Linked DNA regions of Homo sapiens. The protein of the gene in region 1 purifies or fractionates together with the protein of each later gene. This does not show direct contact. Each region holds a gene or a part of one and is shown on either strand. Other genes may lie near its edges. The genes, in order: ZCCHC7 and HDLBP.

Region 1 (3,816 bases):
ATAACGTATAATTCCATATATGTGAGGTCCTGGAAGGGGCAAAACAAATCTATCGTGAGAGAAGGCAAATCAGTGGTTGCCTCAGGTGGGGGATTGACTGCACATGTGCACAAAGTAACATTTTGGGATGATGGAAATGTTCTACATTTGATTTTTATAGTGATTACCCAGGTGTATACATTTGCCAAATTGAATCCTACTGTATTTTTACATAGGTACATTTTATTACATGTAAGTTACACCTCATTAGTTTCCTTTACGGCCCTGCCTTCTGTAACTTTTTTCCTTCTCTCCCTAAAATTGAGGTATTATCCATTCTTCTGAATTTACCATAGCATTTGTTTGGCCTTCTCTTACTCTTTCTTTCTCCTTTCGTTTGTCACCTTGTCCTCTACTAAGGCTATAAGCTCTTTACATCTTTCTTTACCCTCTAGCACCTTGCTCATTTAATCTTCCAATAGATGTTTGTTAAACGGAGTTGATTTCATACAAAGAAAGAATTACCAGCTACTGCTTTGATCACGGCTCTGAAATTTGAACAGAATCACAATCCCAGTTATCAGCAAGAACAACCCTATAAAAGCAGCTATGGGTTGATGACAGGCATTCTTAGGGCAGTCTTAATTTTACAATTCAGGGCAGTCCCATTTAACATTCTATGGCATTGGGTGGTGGACACATGGAAGATGAGTGTTCCTGGGCCGTATGGAAAGTCCTCTTTAAGGCGAATTACCTTGTGCTAGTTGCAAAGGTCTGGAAGATTTAATTCAGGTAAATTACACAACGTGACAATGTATATAATTCCAGTAATGAGAGAAAATTAGAATCAGAAATTCAGTACTAGAAGGTGCCACCATGGATGCCATTTATTCTAACCCATTGTCATACAGACCCAGAGATCTTAAGTATCCTGCCCAACACCACACAGCAAATTAGCGGCACAGTTAACTCTAGAAGCCAGATTTCTATCAAGTACCATACCCAGAATTTAACAAGTTGGAGAATTTGCTGTTTGTGGAAGTTCTGAGGAGTTGCCCTAGACAAAGCTTTCCTTGGGGTGAGATTTTGAGTTTAGACACAATAGGTAAAGATCAAGGGCAGGAAGCTGCTGTCATTACTAGGTTCAAATCAAAACTGGAACCTTGGAGCCATGGCAGGGACAAGAATTGCCTTATGTGTTCCTGGTGATGTCTTTGCTTCATATACCACTTGAGAAATACTGACTTGATCTATTGTTGAAACTTAGTTTGTATACTTGTTGATGAATTTTCTATAGTAAGAATATGAATATGCTATAACTTTTTGAGGAGTTGTTAGTACAGTTGACCCTTAAACAACACGGGTTCGAACTTCATAGGTCTGCCTATAAGCAGCTTTTTCTCAACCAAAAATGGATTGAAAATACAGTTTTCATAGGCTGTGAAACCCACGTATATAGAGGGCCAACTTTTTATATGTGCAGGTTCCACAGGGCTGACGGGAACTTGAGTGTGCAAGGATTTGGTTCTACCAGGGTAGTCTTGGAACCAATCCCTCATATATACTGAGGGACAACTGTACACAAGAATATTTTTGAATCCCACAGGATTGTTAAAACAATCTGAATAGAGTCGATCTCCCTCCTTCAAACCTTCCTTTTTTACTGTTTTCTGTTTATGTGTAAATTTGGAGAGTGGTAACAGTTGCCATTTTGCATTTCATTGGTTTTATATTTCATTTTTTAAGAACAATTTTAAGTCAGTCTTATAGTTAACATAATTTCAAGTGGTCATTTTGAATTTTAATGATGAAAGACATTGAGATACAAAAAGCAGCTTTGAAAGTTGTAGCAAAGCATGCTTCATACATGGATCCTTTGAATGAAAGAATAATAGCATGGATGGTTGATGAAGGAATAGAAGCTGCTGCTATTTAATGTATTCTTCACTCTCAGTACATGGATACAGCCTCCAAATGTTACAAAGAAAATAATCATCAGCACAGCATCTCTGCATACCTGTGGATTGGTCTTTTTGTAAAGCAGCCTCATGGTTTTCTTAGAAAAGTTTTTTATTTAAAAATATATCTCTAGACACTTACTCCTGGTAGGCCTGGGAAAATGTAGATTACTTCATGTCTCTTCAAAAGCCTTTCAAAGAAACAAGTCAAGCTTGATTTGTGTTTTTGAGATAGAGGAAAGTAGTAAGGTAGGAGGACAGAGGAAATCTTAGCTTTAAAGGGAGAAAAAGATCTTTCAGTCCTTTTGTCAACACTTTAGTTTCTGCATTAGTCATAGGTCCCTTCCCCCTTGGCCATGGGTGGACCAAAGGAATAGCAGCCATTTGCACGTTTGTGAAAGGACAGTGGAAAGAAAAGAAAATAGCTGATACAAGAAAATGTGGGAGATTATTTCCCCCACTAGGTTTTTACAGTTGTATTTTTAGATTAATCAGTGGTTTCTGGATATTTGGCCTCCTTTTTTTTCTTTTATTTTGCTGTTTTTGATGTTATAAAATACAGTGCTAAGAACCTAACCCTATTAGTGAGATATTATTCAGAGTCTAATTTTTTTATTGTTATAATGAAAGTCATGTAGAATGCAAAGCTAGTGGACACAGTTAATACTCATATTTGGTAGAAATACTTTTCCTCTACCAAGCTGAGTTCAAATTGTGGGCCTGCAAGTTAACTGATACTGGACAGGTTAACTGGAGAAAAGATAAGGTTTATTCACACTTGAAGGAGCACTCAATATCAGTAACTCTGAAGAAGAGTTTAGAGGGTTATAGAAGTAAGGGGTTATGCCTCTTGCTGTGGCACACCACAGATGCCAGCACTTTGGGAGGCTGAAGTGGGTGGATCTCTTGAGCTCAGGAGTTTGAGACCAGCCTGGGTGACATGGTGAAACCCTGTCTCTACCAAAAAAATTATAAAAATTAGCCTAGCGTGGTGGCAAGTTCCTGTAGTCCCAGCTACTCAGGAGGCTGATGTGGGAGGATTGCTTAAGCCTGGGAGGCGGAGGTTGCAGTGAGCCAAAATGGTACCACTGTACTCCAGTCTTGGCAACAGAGCAAGACCCTGTCTCCAAAAAAAACAAGAAGTAAGGGGCTATATACCAACTTAACAAGAGGGGGTAGCTTAGGGAGTCAAAGGACAGAAAGATCTCATTTACACAATTTTTTTGTTATGTCTCAGTGCCCAGTGTCAGTCATCTCCCTCCTGTGGATCCTCCTGGAGGTGTGAGAGGGTTGTGACAGCTGCCTCAGTAAAGCTCTGCTTTAGTCAGATAAAAGAAGTTAAGATTTCATTCTGCATCTGCTGTTGTATTTTTGGGCCCTTCACTGATTTTTTTTTGTTTTAATATTTGTATGTAGTCTGATGCTTTTCAATGTATTTTCACATACCTCATTTTATTCTCACAGGACTTTTTAGGCAGACAGGGAAAATACTATTATCCCATTTCACAGGTCAGAAAACTGAGACTCAGAGAGGTTAAGTATTTGTCCAGGGCCACATAATTAATAACAGAGCCAAAATAGGAATTTCAGGTATTCAACATTTCTCAGTGTACCTTTGGGGTCCAATTTGAGTACTCATAAATTGTGTAATCTATTGTCAATCTATAAGTCCTTTAAAAGTGCCACGGTTAAGTAATAATTTATTTGTTTTGTAGGAGAAGATGGTATAAACTGGTCCATCAGTGACAAAGACATTGAGGTAAAATCAAATTGTTTTTAAAATTCAGAATAATAATTTCCTTTGCTTCATAGTTTATTATGATAACTTTTGGAACATTAATAAGTTTAAGTGGCTTATAAGAAAACATTTGATTTTAGC
Region 2 (3,816 bases), on another chromosome or scaffold:
GTGGCCCAGCAGAGCTGACAGCCTCAGGCACCACCCGCGTGCTGCCAGGTACAGAACCTCAAGATCGGAAGCACAGCTCACAGGAAAAAGCTGCCTGTGAAGAAATGACTGCTCCACCCCACTTGGCTCATGGTGTATTAGATGGAATAGTCTAATTGCTAAACAATGACTTTTTTTTTTTTTTTTTAAAGACAGAGTCTCACTCTGTCGCCCAGGCTGGAGTGCAATGGCATGATCTCAGCTCACTGCAGCCTCCGCCTCCTGCGTTCAAGCGATTCTCACGTCTCAGTCTCCCGAGTAGCTGGGATTACAGGTGCACGCGACCACGCCTGGCTAATTTTCATATTTTTAGTAGAGACAGGCTTTCGCCATGTTGGTCAGGTTGGCCTTGAACTCCTGACCTCAGGGGATCCACCCGCCTCGGCCTCCAAAAGTGTTGGGATTACAGGCGTGAGCCACTGTGACTCACCTATAATGACTTTTAAGATTGATAATTATATAGAATAGTAGAGGGAAATAAAAGGCAATAAGGGTGAGGGGCTTAAAAGAGCTAAACTCTTGGGCTGGGAGCGGTGGCTCACAGCTGTAGTCCCAGCTACTTGGGAGGTTGAGGCACGAGAATCACTTCAACCCGGGAGGCAGAGGTTACAGTGAGCCGAGATCGCGCCACTGCACTCCACCTGGGGCAACAAGACAAAGACTATCTCTCTCAAAAAAAAGAACTAAACTCTCAAGATCAAGACTAAAAATTAAAAAATGTATGTGGGGAGGGAAGAGGACGTGGGAGCTGGAGGAGGCAGGGTGCAGGAGGGCCCTCCTGGCCTGGCTGGTGTGTGTGTGACTCAAAGATCCAAAAGGGAACAAGAAGCTGGGGAGGAAGAAGGGGAAGGGGAAGGGGAAGCAGCGGAAAACCCTGGGCGGCACATCCACAGTGGGAGCGAGGGGCGTGGAGGGGCTCTGCTGCCAGGGGGTTTGCTGTTTCTGGAAACCAGCACAACTGTGGCCACCAAGGCTTGCTAGTCTCCCACTGTGGGCAAAGCTGTGCTGGACACGCCTAGGAAGCAGACACCCCAGCAGGATGCCAGAGCCAGGAAAGACCAAGCCTGGGAAGTGTGTGCAAGAGGGGGTGTTGGGTGAGGCTGCCCTGCATGCCAGGTGGCAGGGCCCAGAGAGGGGATGGGGCTGCCTTTCATTTTGTTCTGAGTGAAGCAGGAGGCCATGAGGGCCAGTGGCAGGGGGGTGGCACTGCAATTTGGAGGAAGTAACAACAAGAGTTTACTAAGGACCATCTGGCAAGCACAACGGTGTTTGCAGCTGGGGCTGCAGAGAAATGTCCACCTGACCCCAAGAGGCCCAGGTGACAGGTGAATGAGAGCCCTTGGGAGCCTCAGAGAGGCCCGGGTGACAGGTGAATGAGCTACACCTGGAGGCGCCACTGATCAAGGACCCAGCTGGAGCTCCTGCTCATTTTCTGGAAGGAGACGCAGGAGAAAATGCTCCAGGCCCCAGATGATACATAGTGCCAGAGACCTCACCCATCTGGCAAGTACCGAGACACAGCCCAAACCTCAAGCCAGAATTAGGTCCTGAGAGACTTGCCACTCTCAACTTGGCCCTCGAACCCCCATCTAGGCACATCTGGTTACTGCTCCCAAGTCACAGGAAAGGTCAACAAGCACCTCTGCCCCCGACACGCTCCAACCGAGGCTCTCACCTGGTTCCCATCGTCCTTATCAGGAAACTGGATGTTCACGTCATGCTCCAACCGGATTTGGGTAATTACTGCCCCCTTTCTCCCGATAATCTTGGGATGGTATTTGGGGTCTACAGTGACACTCAGCTTAAAACTCCTTAAAGCCTACAAATGAAAGGAGCAAGAATGAGGCAAAGATTGAGCTGATCCACCCTGTGACTCCATTCCCCTTCCACCCTGGTCATAGGACACTGGAGATGCTGCAGTGTTCTGTAACCCGTGGTCCGGAATGGTCCGCCATCTCTCTGGTCCGACCTCTGCCACCTTCCATTATCTGCTAATAATGAGAACCAGGGAACTTGGCTGCTCCACAAGGAGGTCTATAAATCCTTCAAAAGAGGGCTTGGGACCACTTGCGAGGATCGTGCTCAGGAACTGACAGAGCTAGGCAGTGAGTCACGAGCTTGGGGCCCCGCTCTCCTCATTTGTCAAACAGGGATCTGATGGATACGCACAGAAATGCTCTGGATCTTTTTAGGACTGGGGCAGATGCAGACCAAGAAGAGGGGGCAGCCACAGCCCCTGAACACCCATGGCCAAAGGCTACAGGTATGACCTGGCTGCAGGAGACAACCCAGAGTCCACGCAGGGGTACACTGACACCATGTGAGGTTCACGAGCTCCACCCCATTCACCAGACTCGACGTGCTCACGGGAGGAGTGGAAAGCCAACCCCCTTAGCAAACCAGCACCCCAGCACAGTCTGCTCCAAGTTCCAGAACCCCTGCTCCTGTCTGCAGCACTCTGCTCACACAATCCTCCAAATGTCAGCCCTGCCAGAGGCTGGGCGTCTGCAGCGCTCCGCTCATACAATCCTTCAAACGTCAGCCTTGCCAGAGGTTGGGGGGGTTTCATCCCTGCTTACCAGGAAGTCATTCGCCCTTTGACCACCCTGTGCTAGAGGTTAGTGGGGGTCCCCGATGCTCGTCCTCACTGCATAGCACATGCTTGGGGGCCTCTCGCAACCTTGACCTTTCTTGTAGGTCTGAGGTACCACTCTGATTTGGTTTTGAGAGAAACTGCAAATTTACACGGAAGTCCAACTTTGTCACTTTTTTATGAAAAAGAGAAAGGTGCCATGCTCTTGGCTAGTTCCACAGCAAGACCCCTGGATGCTGACTGCGTCCTGGCACTGCCTGCATCTCACCTCCAGCCAGATGTCGCTGGGATGCTGGGATCCTGAAGAACTTCCCTAGATTCTGACATGTGCCCAAAGCTGAGCACCATGGCTCTGGGCAGTGCCCCGGCCACCTCCTGCTCACCCGGTCCTCCTGCTCGGCCTGTAGCTCCTTCACACGCTCCAGCAGTCCAGCCTTGGCCCGGTCCAAATTTGCAGCGAGGCCCGTGATGGCGATGATGTCAGACTGCAGCTCAGGTGCCGGGACATGTATGTTCACCTACGTGAAGAGGGGGCTGACTTGACGTTCAGGACCCCAGAGAACAGGAAAGAGTCCATTGGCCCTGGGACCCAGAAGTGGTGAGAGGGAAGGCCACCCGCCGTGAAGGGAAGTCAGTGCCCAGTCCGAGCAGGAGGAGGCAGAGTCAACAGGAAGTTGAGAAAGGACACTGGCACTCGGGAGAGGATGCGACAGGCCACTCCTGTGACATGGCCTCCCGGGAAAGGGGTCTACCTCAAACTCATCCATCATCTTGCGGATCCCACTTCCTTTCTGCCCAATAACGTAACGGTGAAGGTCAAAGGGCACCTCTACTTCAATGGTGACAGGAACCAATGCCTGCAGGGAGGATGGTCATGGTTAGGCCGTGGGAGCTGAGAGCAGAGTGACGTTGTAAGCTCAGCAATGGGGCTCCACGAAACACAAGGCAAACAGCCCTATGACAACAGCAATGTGCCCCACCCGACAATGCCACCAGGACCTTTAACTCAATAGAAAAGAATAGGAAAAGATTTGCATTAGGCTAATGCTGGCAGACAGAAATTCCAGACCCTTCATCCCAAGCCTACCCTCCTGAATTACAGCAGCCCCTTCAGGCCCACGTAGGAGGAGAGGCCCTGACTCCTGGCACATCCTCGGGGTCATGACGGCTTTGACCGATGCCCA

The links.
Region 2: the proteins of ZCCHC7 (region 1) and HDLBP purify together in Homo sapiens (affinity purification with mass spectrometry, with the first as the bait; one large-scale study listed by BioGRID). This does not show direct contact.

The regions. Positions count from the first base shown.
Region 1 is NC_000009.12:37,298,536-37,302,351, forward strand, and holds part of ZCCHC7 (zinc finger CCHC domain-containing protein 7), read left to right. Parts: intron 1-3,652; coding exon 3,653-3,696; intron 3,697-3,816.
Region 2 is NC_000002.12:241,232,106-241,235,921, forward strand, and holds part of HDLBP (vigilin), read right to left. Parts: intron 3,490-3,816; coding exon 3,385-3,489; intron 3,151-3,384; coding exon 3,016-3,150; intron 1,859-3,015; coding exon 1,715-1,858; intron 1-1,714. UniProt on the Homo sapiens protein: Appears to play a role in cell sterol metabolism. It may function to protect cells from over-accumulation of cholesterol.